4 linked regions of the Homo sapiens genome follow. The protein of the gene in region 1 interacts with the protein of each later gene in a biochemical or structural test. Each region holds a gene or a part of one and is shown on either strand. Other genes may lie near its edges.

Region 1 (2,835 bases):
AGCTGTGGGACTCAGACTGTCTTGGGACTGAGAGTCGTGGTGAGGAATGTCCGGGGAGAGTCAGTATCCAGGGTGGGCTGCAGCTGCTTCTTAGAGTGAAGTGAGTCTATCCAGGGTGGGCTGCAGTTGCTCCTTACAGCAAAGTGAGTGGTCAGCTCTGATTCAGGCCTCCTCTGAGGACCAGTGTCTTTTGGGCCAGTGACCAGGCAGGTGGTATTGAGGAGGGCCTTGGAAGGGCTCAGGAAACGAGGAAGCCTTGAGGGCAGGACCAGATATGCCAAGGGTGGGGGCGTCCACTCACCTCACTCAATGCTCCTGCACAGTGCTGGGGGTGGCATGTGGTGGCTGTAGTGGTTGAGTTAGATCCCGTTACAGAAATACCGATTATTACAATCTGACAGTGACCCCTCTATTCATTTAGGGCAAGGCATCCCTTTCAGCAGGGGGGGAACTGAAACTGCTGCTATACATTTTTTTATTGCTACATGTTGGAAACTCCAGATGTGATTCTTCTGAAAGTCTTGATTATTTTTACACAGTTTTTAATAGCAGATTTTAAGGGTCATTATGGAAATATAGTATAGCAGGAAAGCTTGATGGAATGAAAGACCTAAGTACATATTTTATTATAAACATATGTAACAGCTCTGCTAATTCCAATTTTCTACTTAGAAAGTTTTGTGCATTTGTCAAAAGGGTATTACCTTTAACCTCCCTGTAGTCTCCCTTTTTTGGATAGAGGGTAATATAAACTATGATGAACACCCTTCCTATATAAAGGCTATCTTAGCACCCCATGGGAGCAGAGTGGGATGAAAGAACAGGGTGTGTGGAGTGTTCATTCCCATCCCTTTGTCATCAGCAGGAATCAGGATCAGAAAAGTCCCCTCACTAAAGAAAGTCACCCCTTCTCCCCTCAAAAAGTACATAAGTAAAAATAAGAATCAAAGATTCTCGTAGCCCAGCTTAGGAGGAATGAATGTATCGATCAGTCTCCATGACTCAGTTTATTTCTGCTCTGACCAGGAAAAACAAGACAAGGCCGTTCTCCAAGCAGAAGTGCAGCACCTGAGACAGGACAACATGAGACTGCAGGAGGAGTCCCAGACCGCGACAGCTCAGCTGCGGAAATTCACAGAATGGTTTTTCACCACCATCGACAAAAAATCTTAGCCAATCCGCACCTCATCAAGGGACCACTGGGAAATGCCCCTTGTCCCTTTGAAGTCACAAACATGTGGTTTTTCTGTGTGCTTTCAACCAATCGTAGATGTTTTTGCTGTTCCATTCTGTGTAGCACCATTCACCACAGCAGGATAGGGAGCCTCGACTCTTTCTCGGTAACCACGGCAGAGAGCAGCGCCGATGTGAAGATGAATGAATGTAACTCCTGGTGTGAAGATGAATGTAAACCCTGGCGACAGTTGAGACCTTTTTCTTTTAGACTCTGCTAAAACAGTGCTCTGGCTTGGGCTTACCTCAAGAGGGAAGATAGTTGAGTTTTATTTCCTGTATATCAGGTGACCTGGTAGAGATGTAAAGCAATTTACCATAGTTTGGGCTTTAGTATTGTAAAATAAACATGAGAACAAATAATCAGACATATACTTTAATGTTAAAGGTGCTCTATTTTTTTGGATGTACAGTAGTTTTATTTCCACAGCCACATTACCATAGCAATAAGAAAGGAGGCATAGTACATAGTTGGAAAAGCTTTGTGGGGGGATTAAAAAAAAAAAAAAGCACTGTTGTGTTTAACACTAGTTCAGATGCAGTTACCTTAGAGACTTATTTATTTGCAGGAACAAATGGTGCCTGAATATTAACAGTGTTCTGATTAAAAACAAAAAAAAGATACATATGCCTTGTAAATGGCTCACCGAGTGGTCAGTAGTCACTTCAACTCTTAGTTCACTTTTGTATAGTTGCTCTGCTGGAAAGAAATGAGAGTGAATCTGCTTACTCACTAGAACTTCCCTGTGTGCTGTGAGCCAGCGGAACCACTTGTACAATGCCAGATTTGTTTATCTTTGTACAGAAGCTTTGATGAAGTGTCTTGTATTTAACACCCTTATTTAAGCTTATTTAACCTTAAATTGTTAATTTTATAAAATTTGGTTTGGCCTGCACTACGATGAGGGATGGAGGTAGCTGCAGGCTCAGAAGAGACTGAGCTTGCACAGATCAGACCGAGAAGCAGGGTGAGAGATTCTAACGACTGGATGCTGCTAGTAACACATTGTTTGTATTGCTTTACCATTTTTAACTGTTAGATTTGAGATGAACATACATTTTGCTTTTTTAATAAATGTTTAAAAGAAGTCCACATAAGAAATGGTGTTGTCAGGTGACTAGATTTTTTGTGATCTAACATGTCAACAGTCTGACTGTATGTGAATTTATTTCAGGTCATTTAGAACCTTGATTTGTATTAAATACTGTTCAGCTCCTTTCTCATAGAATCCCAGATCGATTTCAGGAAGGAGTACCTAGCAGTTTTTAATAGCTGCTGTGTGGCGGACACTATTCTCTGAACTTTTCATCCATCTCATTTAACCCCAATGGTATCTATCCTTCATAGGTAGGAGGTGGGGTTCCCATTTACAACCACATGAACTGTGGGTCAAGTGAAGTAATTTACGCAAGACTGCCTTTAAAAAAATAAAATAAAATAACACTTTGGTGTTGCCAGCACTTTGAGAGGCCAAGGCGGGTGGATCACCTGAGGTTAGGAGTTCAAGACCAGCCTGACCAACATGGAGAAACCCTGTCTCTACTAAAAGTACAAAATTAGCCGGGCATGGTGGCACATGCCTGTAATCCCAGCTACTCGGG
Region 2 (2,196 bases), on another chromosome or scaffold:
ACTCCCTCGCCAATGCCCAGCAAATATTTGAGGAGCTCTATCCCAGCCCCAGCCCATCACACACAGTCATGATCCTGGCTGGGGACCCACACGGACAGGGGGACCTTGGGGGGGTCACACTCTGGAACTAAGGTTCTGGGGGTGCTCTCGTTCCCATGGGGGCCCATCAGCAGGAGTGCACAGGCCTTAGCAGGAGCCCGTGGGGTGCGCTGTGGTGGGAAGGCTGGGAAGGGAAGGGGCCTTGGGAGCCACAGTGGATTGTAGGGTCCCCGCCTCTGGCTCCCCTCGCTCCCCCCTTCCTGCCGTGTTCTCAGTGTGAGCCGGCTCAGCCTTGCCTGGGTGTCCTTGTGCCCTGCGAGCTTCCAAGGGGCGCTGGGGAGGCTTCACAGAGGAGGTGGCTGCGCTTGGCAGCACAGATGATGTGGAGCATGGAGGCAGAGGCTGAGCAAAGTGCCTGGGGGACGGGGTCCCTCGGGGGGCAGGAAGGGCGGGCAGTGGGAGAGGTGCCAGGCCTGGGTCTCGAAGGAGAGCCTGGGAGAGTTCAGGCCATGCCCCTGCCCCGGCCAGGCCAGTGCAGCCCCTGCTCCCGCTGTGCCTGCCAGGGTTCCTGACTCAGCTTTGAGGACCAGGGTGGGGCGGGGTCCTGCCCCAGGCCTAGGCCAGAGCAGCTGGCAGTGGCTGGCACAGAGACATTCATGGACAAGTGTCTGGGAGGCCTGGGGGCGACCGGCAGCCGGTGAGGGGCCTGCGCATGTGGAAAGAGGGGCCTTCCTGCTGCATCTTGTGGGGCCTCCAGCAGGACCCCCTCCTGGGAAGGCTGGACAGCACAGTCGGAGCCGGCAGGACCAGCCAGCCGAGGGCAGGGAGCCGTGGGGCGCCGGGGAGAGGTTCACAGGTGGCCCAAGCGGCAGGGAACAAGATCCCAGTGTGGCCTCAGGTCTGGATGTTTGGAGATGTGGCACCAGGAGTGAGACCAGGAGGCCAGGCCCCTCTGGAGGTGGTGCAGGCTCTGCTGGGTCCTCTGTGTTGCCATCCCTGCCAGGGAAATGCTGGGCAAGAAGGTGCTCCCCGGGCAGGCCCTGGCATGTAGGTGGTGAGGCAGCGTGCTGCTCAGGGCGGGGCCAGGCAGCTGAGTCACAGGCCTGGGGCTGGCTGCCCTGCACAGGAGGGCGAGGCTGGCTCCCGTAGGCAGGAAGGGCCTGGCTGTGGCCCCCTCCTTGTGATGTGGACATCCTTGGTCCATACAGAGCTGTCCTGTCTCCAGAAACAAGTGTTTCTCCATCCTGAGCACACTAGCTTCCTGGGGCCCTCAGGGGCCTGTCCTCCCATCTGTCCATGTGGGGCTGGCGGGGTAGAGCCGGGCTTCTGGACATGTGTGGTGTTGCAGGCCCCTTCAGAGCCCTATGAACACTCCAGGCAAATGCCCAAATGCCCACGGTATTGACCGGCGAGAGGGGGCAAACCCCTGCCTCTCCCCACACGATATCTCCCAGCCCTGCAGCCTGGCATCTGGAGCCATGCGGACCTGGTGACAAGAAGGAGATGGGCAGAACTGTCCCCTTGTCCCCTGGGGGCAGGGCTAGCTCCTAGCCCTGGCAGAACCTAGTAGGACACTTGTTGAATGAGCAGAGGCCTGACTGGGAGAAGTTTCTAGTCTCAGCTGCTCCACATGGACCCCTGGGCCTCCAGATGGCATCTCCACCGGGCCTGGCTGAGTAAGACACACAGGCCCCACACAGCTCCCACATGCTGGCTGGGCTGCTGCGTCGAGGCCAGGATGAGGGCCTCTGGGGCCACTGCTGGGACCTGTTCAAGAGAACGGGCTGGGCACGCTCAAGAGGGGAGTCACACCTTCCGCCCGCAGCCCGGACTTGTTCACAGATGCCTCATGGAGGCTGCTTCCGGAAGCTTGGACTGAGGGTGAGGAGGGGCACGCTGGGATTGGGGACCTTGGTGGCCACGGAGCCGCTGGGGCAGCAAGGACCCTGCGGCCATTTCAGGGACCTCAGAACTGTAGATCGAGGAGGGTCTTCACCTTCCCAGGCCTTCGATTCACCTGTGGAGGGCAGCAGTTGGTAGCAGGGACCCCCTGTCCCTGGTTCTCATGTGCCGGGGGCTGGCTCTTCCTGCCTCCTGTCTGCTGTGGGCCCAGGCCTGGGGCTCCTGCCACCCCATAGGCGCCTCAAGGCCTCCACC
Region 3 (3,500 bases), on another chromosome or scaffold:
GCCAGGACTGTGCCAGCCCCCACCCTTTGGAGGCCATATCCACCCTCCCCTCCTGAAGTGTCACTGGGCCTCAACTCTGCCCCAACATCCTCTCTCTCTCGCGTGCTCTCTCTCTCTCCTCCAAAAAGCAAATATTTGGAAGGGGACTTTGACATCTTCTTTCTAGTTCAGATGTTTATATCTCTTTGAGTCACAGACCCCTTTGAGAATCTAATGAAAGCCGTGGGCCCATTTCCCCATTAAAATGCATGTATACACCAATATTTTCATTACATTCAGGGTCTCTGTGAACTGTTGAAGTTTCCAGTGGGCTGAGATTAAGAATTTCTGATCTGGTTCAACCACTTGATTTTATTATAGATGAAGACAAGACACTAAGGCCCAGAGAGGGCAAGTGACTTGCCTATGATCTCACAGCAAATTAGTGGCACAGCCCATTCTGAAGCAGTGGGCCCAGACTCCCAGTTCAGTGTGTCCTTTCCACTCCCCCAGATGGTGTCTCCCTCCCTTTCCTCTCCATAGCTCACTTCTCCATCAGTCCTGTCCTAGGGCCCTGCACAGAACAAAGTACACGTGACGTATGGTCAGTAAGTGTGGTTAACAGGCCAGCCGGAAGAAGGAACAGGCCAGCCGGAAGGAGGGCCAACTTCATTTAGCTGATTCTTCCCTGCAGGGCCAGGGTAGATGTGGTTTGATTGCAGAGACGTGAGGGGCTAGGTCAATGATTGGATGGGTCTGTTCCAGGGTGTTCCTGTGATGTCTCAGAGCTCCAGGCTGTCACCATGCGAGGGACCAAGAGAAGTGTCCTTAGGCTACAGAGCAGGGGACCAGAAGCATGCCCAGGCTTCCTCTAAATGCCAGGACCTTAGCTTTTAACACCACCTCCAGCCATCTCTCTTCCTCCTCTGCTCTGGAACCCATGCTGGCTCCCTAGTACCATAGCATCAGATTCAGATTTCTTCCCCTTGTGTCTTCTTTGCATAGGATGAGCTCATTTCTGCACTGGTCATTGTTGTCATCCTGTCCCTAGCTGGTGTGAGTGGGAACGAGTGGGGAGGTGGGCAGAACTCTGGAATGTCCTCTGCCTGCCTGGGGCCTTGGCCGGATATCTTGCTGTGCCTTACCAGCCGTCTCTGCCCCCAGGACTGCAGTGCAACGCATCCGTGGACCTCATTGGCACCTGCTGGCCCCGCAGCCCTGCGGGGCAGCTAGTGGTTCGGCCCTGCCCTGCCTTTTTCTATGGTGTCCGCTACAATACCACAAGTAAGGAAGAAGTGGAGGGTGGACCATCTGCTGGGAGGTGGGACAGGATGGGGAGAGCTTGGAGGTGGGGGAAGGAAGAATGACGATGACAATAACAGTAATACCTCTTGTGGGGATCGCCCCTGTTTTCCAAAGGTCAGCGCTGTATTCTCCTGGGTGCCCTGTGCTCATTACTCGTGATTCTCACAATACCCTTGCAAGACACTATCACGCCTCCTATAACTAAGGCCCCTGGGGCTCAGGGAGGTTAGGGAACTTGCCCCATTGGCAGCTGGTAAGGGGTGAAGCTGGAATTTGCATCCACGTCTGTCTGGCACTTTCTTCTGCCATTAAACTTCAGGTTAGTCTGTTTGAGCCTACTGTAATACCATGAAGCAGGGCAGGAATCATCAGAGCCCCAGCTGTGTGGATAAGAACCTTGAGTCGAGAGGTTCTGAGGCCTACCCCGGGCCCTCCAGCCAGGAGGCAGGGGACCCAGAGTTTCAGATGCACAGGCACAGGCTCAACTTGCATCCTGGATTTGTAGGTGGAGTGGGGCAGGACGGGGTTGACCCAGGGTCCGTCGGATACTTGATCCTCATGTAAACACCTGGCTCCCCGGAGGCCCGAAACCCCCAGAGCCGGGCTTTGCAGCTCCCTGCTATTCCGCCTGCCACTCTCAGAATTAATTTGCTCTCCCCTGTCAATGAGTCAGGTCCCTGCTTATCAAGAGAGCAACAGCTGTGGGCCAGGAGCCCTAACCTACCTGAGGGGAGGCTGGGGGCCTGATCCCTGCAATTGGGGCCTCCTGTGTGCACCCTTGGGTCCTTGTGGTCTTGAACTCAGAGTCCCAAGAGGGCACAGGGGTGAGCCCAGACACCATGTAGTTTACTCCAAGACTCACTGTGTGACCTCCCAGCACATTGTTGCCCCTCATCTGGCCCTCAGCCCCTCATCTGAGGATGGAGAGGGCTGGATGGCTTGGCTTCTAAGATGTCTTCCAGCTCAAAACTCCCAGATTCCTTCTCCTGCCCCTCTTTCCTCTACCAGATGGATTTGGGGTGTTAAGGTTGGGGGCTACAGCAGAGGAGTAGGAAGACCCAGCCAGAAAGTGACTCCCCAGGGAGTGACTTGGGAGGCCAGGGCAGGGCAGGAGGCTGGGGCAGCCAGATCTAGCAGCCTCGTGTGTCTGTACCATGTCCTGGCCATGGGAGGGACTCGGGAGAGGGAGAAGACACACTGGGAGGGGCTTGGGGGCCAAGGGGAGGAAGTGCAGAAAGGAAGAAGGGCCTCTTGGCCAGGTCAGTCCAAGGGGTGCACAGTTGGCCAGCCCCCAATATAGTCAGGCCCATTTTGTAATAAGGAAATTGAGGCACAGAGAGGCTAATAACCTATCGGAGGTCGCAGAGCCTGGAGGCAGGGTCACAGCCCAGGGACGATAACTCTCACGATGCTGGGGGCTGAGTCCTTCTGGAGCCCCTAGGAAGGAGGCAGCATCTGCACATCAGAGGAGCTTCCAGGAGGAGGCACCAGTTCCTGTCATGTCCACTTCCAGAGTGATCCTCGTGTCTGGGCCTACCTGCCCCCACTCCCCAGCGCCACCGCCCAGCCTCAGGTTTCAGATCTGAGTTGGTCACTCCTTCACTTGGAACCCACTCTTGTGTGGCCTCCGTGTTCAGGCTGCTGGGTGGGGCCGGCCAGGCTGTCTGTGGTCATGGCCCTGTCACCTTTTGCAGCCAGCCCTGGCCACCCCCCATGAGTTCCCTCTGCTCCCGTTGCAAAGGGTTACTTGACATGCTCCAGATAAACATTTTCAGCCCTCAGTGCCTGGGCACACACTTCACTTGCTGGCCCTGCCTGAAGTGGCAGTCAGGAGTCCTAAGTTCTCATTCCAGCTGCATCTGCAGCTGGTTAAGTAGCCCTTGGCACAGACCTTCTGTGGGCCTCAGTTTCTACACCTGCAGAATGGGTGGGAGGATTGAGTGTGGTGCTCTCTAGGCTCCCCCGCACTTCCCTCTGTGATCCCAGGAAAGGAGCTGGGGTGATGGCCTCTCGACATGGGGTCAGTCTGTGAGGGCAGGGCTGGAAGACCCCTTTCCAGGTGCCTCCAGCGCCAGATGAGGTGGAGCACGCCCGTGCAGTCAGTCACAAGTGGGTACCCAGAGCTGCACCTCATCATTAAGCACTAATTAATCCATTTACTGATGAGTTGCTGCCAGGACTTCTAGGCCTTCTCCCTAATGCCCTCCCTCCTGCTG
Region 4 (3,500 bases), on another chromosome or scaffold:
TGCAGTGGCTTGATCATGGCTCACTGCAGCCTCGAACTCCCGGGCTCAATGGATCCTCCAGGTTCAGTCGATCCTCCGGGCTCAATTGATTCTTGTGCCTCAGCCTCCTGAGTAGATGGTACTACAGGCACGCACCACCACACCTGGCTACTTTTTTGTATTTTTTGTAGAGACAGAGTTTTGTCATGTTGCCCAGGCTGATGTCAAACCCCTGGGCTCGGCCAAGTGCAGTGGCTCACGCCTGTAATCCCAGCACTTTGGGAGGCCGAGGCGGGTGGATCACAAGATCAGGAGATTGAGACCATCCTGGCTAACACGGTGAAACCCCGTCTCTACTAAAAAAAACAAAAAAACAAAAAAACAAAAAATTAGCCAGGCGTGGTGGCAGGTGCCTGTAGTCCCAGCTACTCAGGAGGCTGAGGCAGAATGGCATGAACCCGGGAGGCGGAGCTTGCAGTGAGCCGAGATCGCATCACTGTACTCCAGCCTGGGCGACAGAGTGAGACTCTGTCTCAAAAAAATAAATAAACAAACAAGCAAACAAACAAACCCTTGGGCTCAAGTGATCTGCCCACCTCAACCTCCCAAAGTACTGGGATTACAGATGTGAGCCACTGTGCCTGGCTGAGGAATAACTTTTTTTTTTTTGAGACAGAGTTTCGCTCTTGTTGCCCAGGCTGGAGTGCAATGGCACAATCTTGGTTCACTGGAACCTCTGCCTCCTGGGTTCAAGCGATTCTCCTGCCTCAGCCTCCTGAGTAGCTGAGATTACGGGCACCTCCCACCATGCCCAGCTAATTTTTGTGTTTTAATAGAGATGAGGTTTCACCAAGTTGGTCATGCTGGTCTCAAACTCCTGACCTCAGGTGATCCACCCACCTCAGGCTCCCAAAGTGCTGGGATTACACGCGTGAACCACCACACCCGGCCGGTAATAAGATTTTTAAAGGAGGAAATAACATTAGGCAATACTTACTGGTGAAGAGCTCAGTACTTCCGCTTGCTTGCTAGGAGATCTCATGAGCTAAAGCAGATACGAAAGTGCCTGCCAGAGATAGGGAGTAGAAGGTGTGAAGGCCAGGACGTGAGAGGCCAGGCCTGTTGTAATTAGAAGCAATTCAGTGTGGCTGGAGGACAAGTGAGAGATCCTCGGGTGGCAGAGGCCAGATCACCAAGGTTCTTGTAAGCCAGCAACACTTGGGCTTTAGCAGGAGGAAGATGGGGACCACTGCAGAGTGTTAAGCAAGGGAGTGATGACATCAGCTTTGCACATCAGGAAAATCCCTCTGTTTGCCACGTGGATGACGGGGAGGGAGAGGCGGGCAGATGAGCTGGGCACCAGAGAGAGCTGCAGGTGAGAGGTAATGGTGGCCCGAGCTAGGGGTGACACACTGAGGTGTGTGGGAGATGTACTGAATGGAGAATCGGGGACATGGAGAGGAGAGGAGGAGGGATCAGGGATGATGCTCCTTTTCTGGCTTGGTCAGCATGGCCCAGGCAACTGGTAGAAGATACAAGATAGGTAAGTGTCTTTGACATTGTTCATTTACTCTGTGTTTATAGCTAGGATGTAAGTTTTACTAATCCCATTTCAGATGGTAATTGGAGATCTAGAGAGGTTGAGCAGTTATTCCAGGGTGCCTCAGGTAGTTTTAGGAGCATTGGGATTTGAACTTGGGTCTTTTTCACTTCAGTATCATTAGCCACTCATTGTGCAGTTCTTCCTCGGTGGAAAGAGGGTCAGTTCTGTGGCTGTGGGTCTGAGACCTGGGGGTTGGGTGAGGTGGAACATGGAGTTGGGTGAACATTGGGTAAGGAGGAGGAGCAGAAAGTCTTAGCAGAAATGTTTGCTGTGTCTGCATTGTTTTTCCCAAACCTAGCGCAGGACAGTGAGACAGCGGCTCTATGCCTTTTCCTCAGCCCGTCCTAGACACTGTTTCTGCCAGGAGGACAGTTTTGCTGGGAGTTGGCCTCAACCTGCTCCTCCTATCTGAATGGTGGGTGAAGGACAGACAAGCCTGGTGCTAAGCTCATCCAGAGGCCCCCAGATAGGGAAATAGCATGGATTCTCTTCTGCCCGCTGGGGACTTCTTGGGCACCTGGCCCCCAGGCATGGCTGTCCTGACTCATCTGGGTGCTATGGCTTACGGGCCTCTAGATATCCTTTGGAAAAACGTGTGAGGCATAAATTGATATGAACATTCTTCAAGGCAGTTTGGCAATACATTTTTTTTTAATTCAACATTTCCACCTCTTGCAGTGTACTCCAAGAATATACTTGGATATATTTCTGTTGTTTTTGATGGCAAAATTAAAATCTTTTGGTTGAGAAAATTTTGGTTTATCCATACAGTGTGTTCTCTGCAGTTTTTCTGTATAGTCACTAAAAATCACATTCTAGGGGAATATTTAATGACATGGAAAATACTCATGATTTATTAAGTGAAAAAGTCTGTGTGTGTGCATATATGTTTATATACATATATCTGTAGCTATCTGTGTACATGGCATATCTCAGTATGATGAGATTGTGACTTTTCTTTACTTCTTTGTCCTTTTATTTTGAGATAGGGTCTCACTCTGTCACCCAGGCTGGAGTACAGTGGTATAATCAGCTCACTGCAGCCTTGATCTCCTGGGCTCAAGCGATTCTCTGTGTACCACCACACCTGGCTAATTTTTGTATTTTTTGCAGAGTCAGGATCTTGCCATGTTTCCCAGGCTGGTCTCAAATTTCTGGCCTCAAGTGATCTACCCACCTTGGCCTCCCAAAGTGCTAGGATTACAGGTGTGACCTACTGCACCCAGCTGCCTTTGTACTTTTCTTTTCTTTTTTTTTTTTGAGATTGAGTTTCACTCTTGTTGCCCAGGCTGGAGTGCAATGGCACAATCTTGGCTCACCACAACCTCTGCCTTCTGGGTTCAAGCGATTCTCCTGCCTCAGCCTCCCAAGTGGCTGGGATTACAGGCATGCGCCACCACGCCCAGGTAATTTTGTATTTTTAGTAGAGATGGGGTTTTTCCATGTTGGTCAGGCTGGTTTTGAACTCCCAACCTCAGGTGATCCGCCCTGACTCAGTCTCCTGAAGTGCTGGGGTTTACAGGTGTGAGACACCGCGCCCAGCCTTCTTTGTGCTTTTCTATATTAACAAATTTTTGAGGCCGGGCATGGTGGTTCATACCTGTAATCCCAGCAAGTCTGGGCGTGGTAGCTCAAGCCTGTAATCCTAGCACTTTGGGAGGCCAAGGTGGGTGGATCACCTGAGATCAGGAGTTCAAGACCAGCATGATCAACATGGTGAAACCCCATCTCTATTAAAAATACAAAAATTAGCCAGGCCTGGTGGCAGGCACCTGTAATCCCAGCTACTCGGGAGGCTGAGGCACAAGAATCACTTGAACCCAGGAGGCGGAGGTTGCAGTGAGCCAAGATCATGCCACTGCACTCCAGCATGGGCGACGGAGCAAGTCTCAAAAAAAAAAGCAACTTTTTGATAGTG

What was found. The genes of interacting proteins can lie anywhere in the genome.
Region 2: the proteins of SIPA1L2 (region 1) and RGS12 interact in a test that uses a peptide from one of them, tested with the Homo sapiens proteins (one large-scale study listed by IntAct).
Region 3: the proteins of SIPA1L2 (region 1) and CRHR1 interact in a test that uses a peptide from one of them, tested with the Homo sapiens proteins (one large-scale study listed by IntAct).
Region 4: the proteins of SIPA1L2 (region 1) and TECPR2 interact in a test that uses a peptide from one of them, tested with the Homo sapiens proteins (one large-scale study listed by IntAct).

What each region holds. Positions count from the first base shown.
Region 1 is NC_000001.11:232,397,465-232,400,299, reverse strand, and holds the end of SIPA1L2 (signal-induced proliferation-associated 1-like protein 2), read left to right. Parts: intron 1-1,026; coding exon 1,027-1,173; 3' UTR 1,174-2,335; downstream 2,336-2,835.
Region 2 is NC_000004.12:3,436,021-3,438,216, forward strand, and holds part of RGS12 (regulator of G-protein signaling 12), read left to right. Parts: intron 1-2,196. UniProt on the Homo sapiens protein: Regulates G protein-coupled receptor signaling cascades. Inhibits signal transduction by increasing the GTPase activity of G protein alpha subunits, thereby driving them into their inactive GDP-bound form.
Region 3 is NC_000017.11:45,815,320-45,818,819, forward strand, and holds part of CRHR1 (corticotropin-releasing factor receptor 1 isoform 2 precursor), read left to right. Parts: intron 1-1,143; coding exon 1,144-1,263; intron 1,264-3,500. Other genes in the region: LINC02210-CRHR1 (CRHR1-IT1-CRHR1 protein), read left to right, coding at 1,240-1,263.
Region 4 is NC_000014.9:102,369,441-102,372,940, forward strand, and holds part of TECPR2 (tectonin beta-propeller repeat-containing protein 2), read left to right. Parts: intron 1-303; exon of another isoform or gene 304-335; intron 336-976; exon of another isoform or gene 977-1,045; intron 1,046-3,500. UniProt on the Homo sapiens protein: Probably plays a role as positive regulator of autophagy.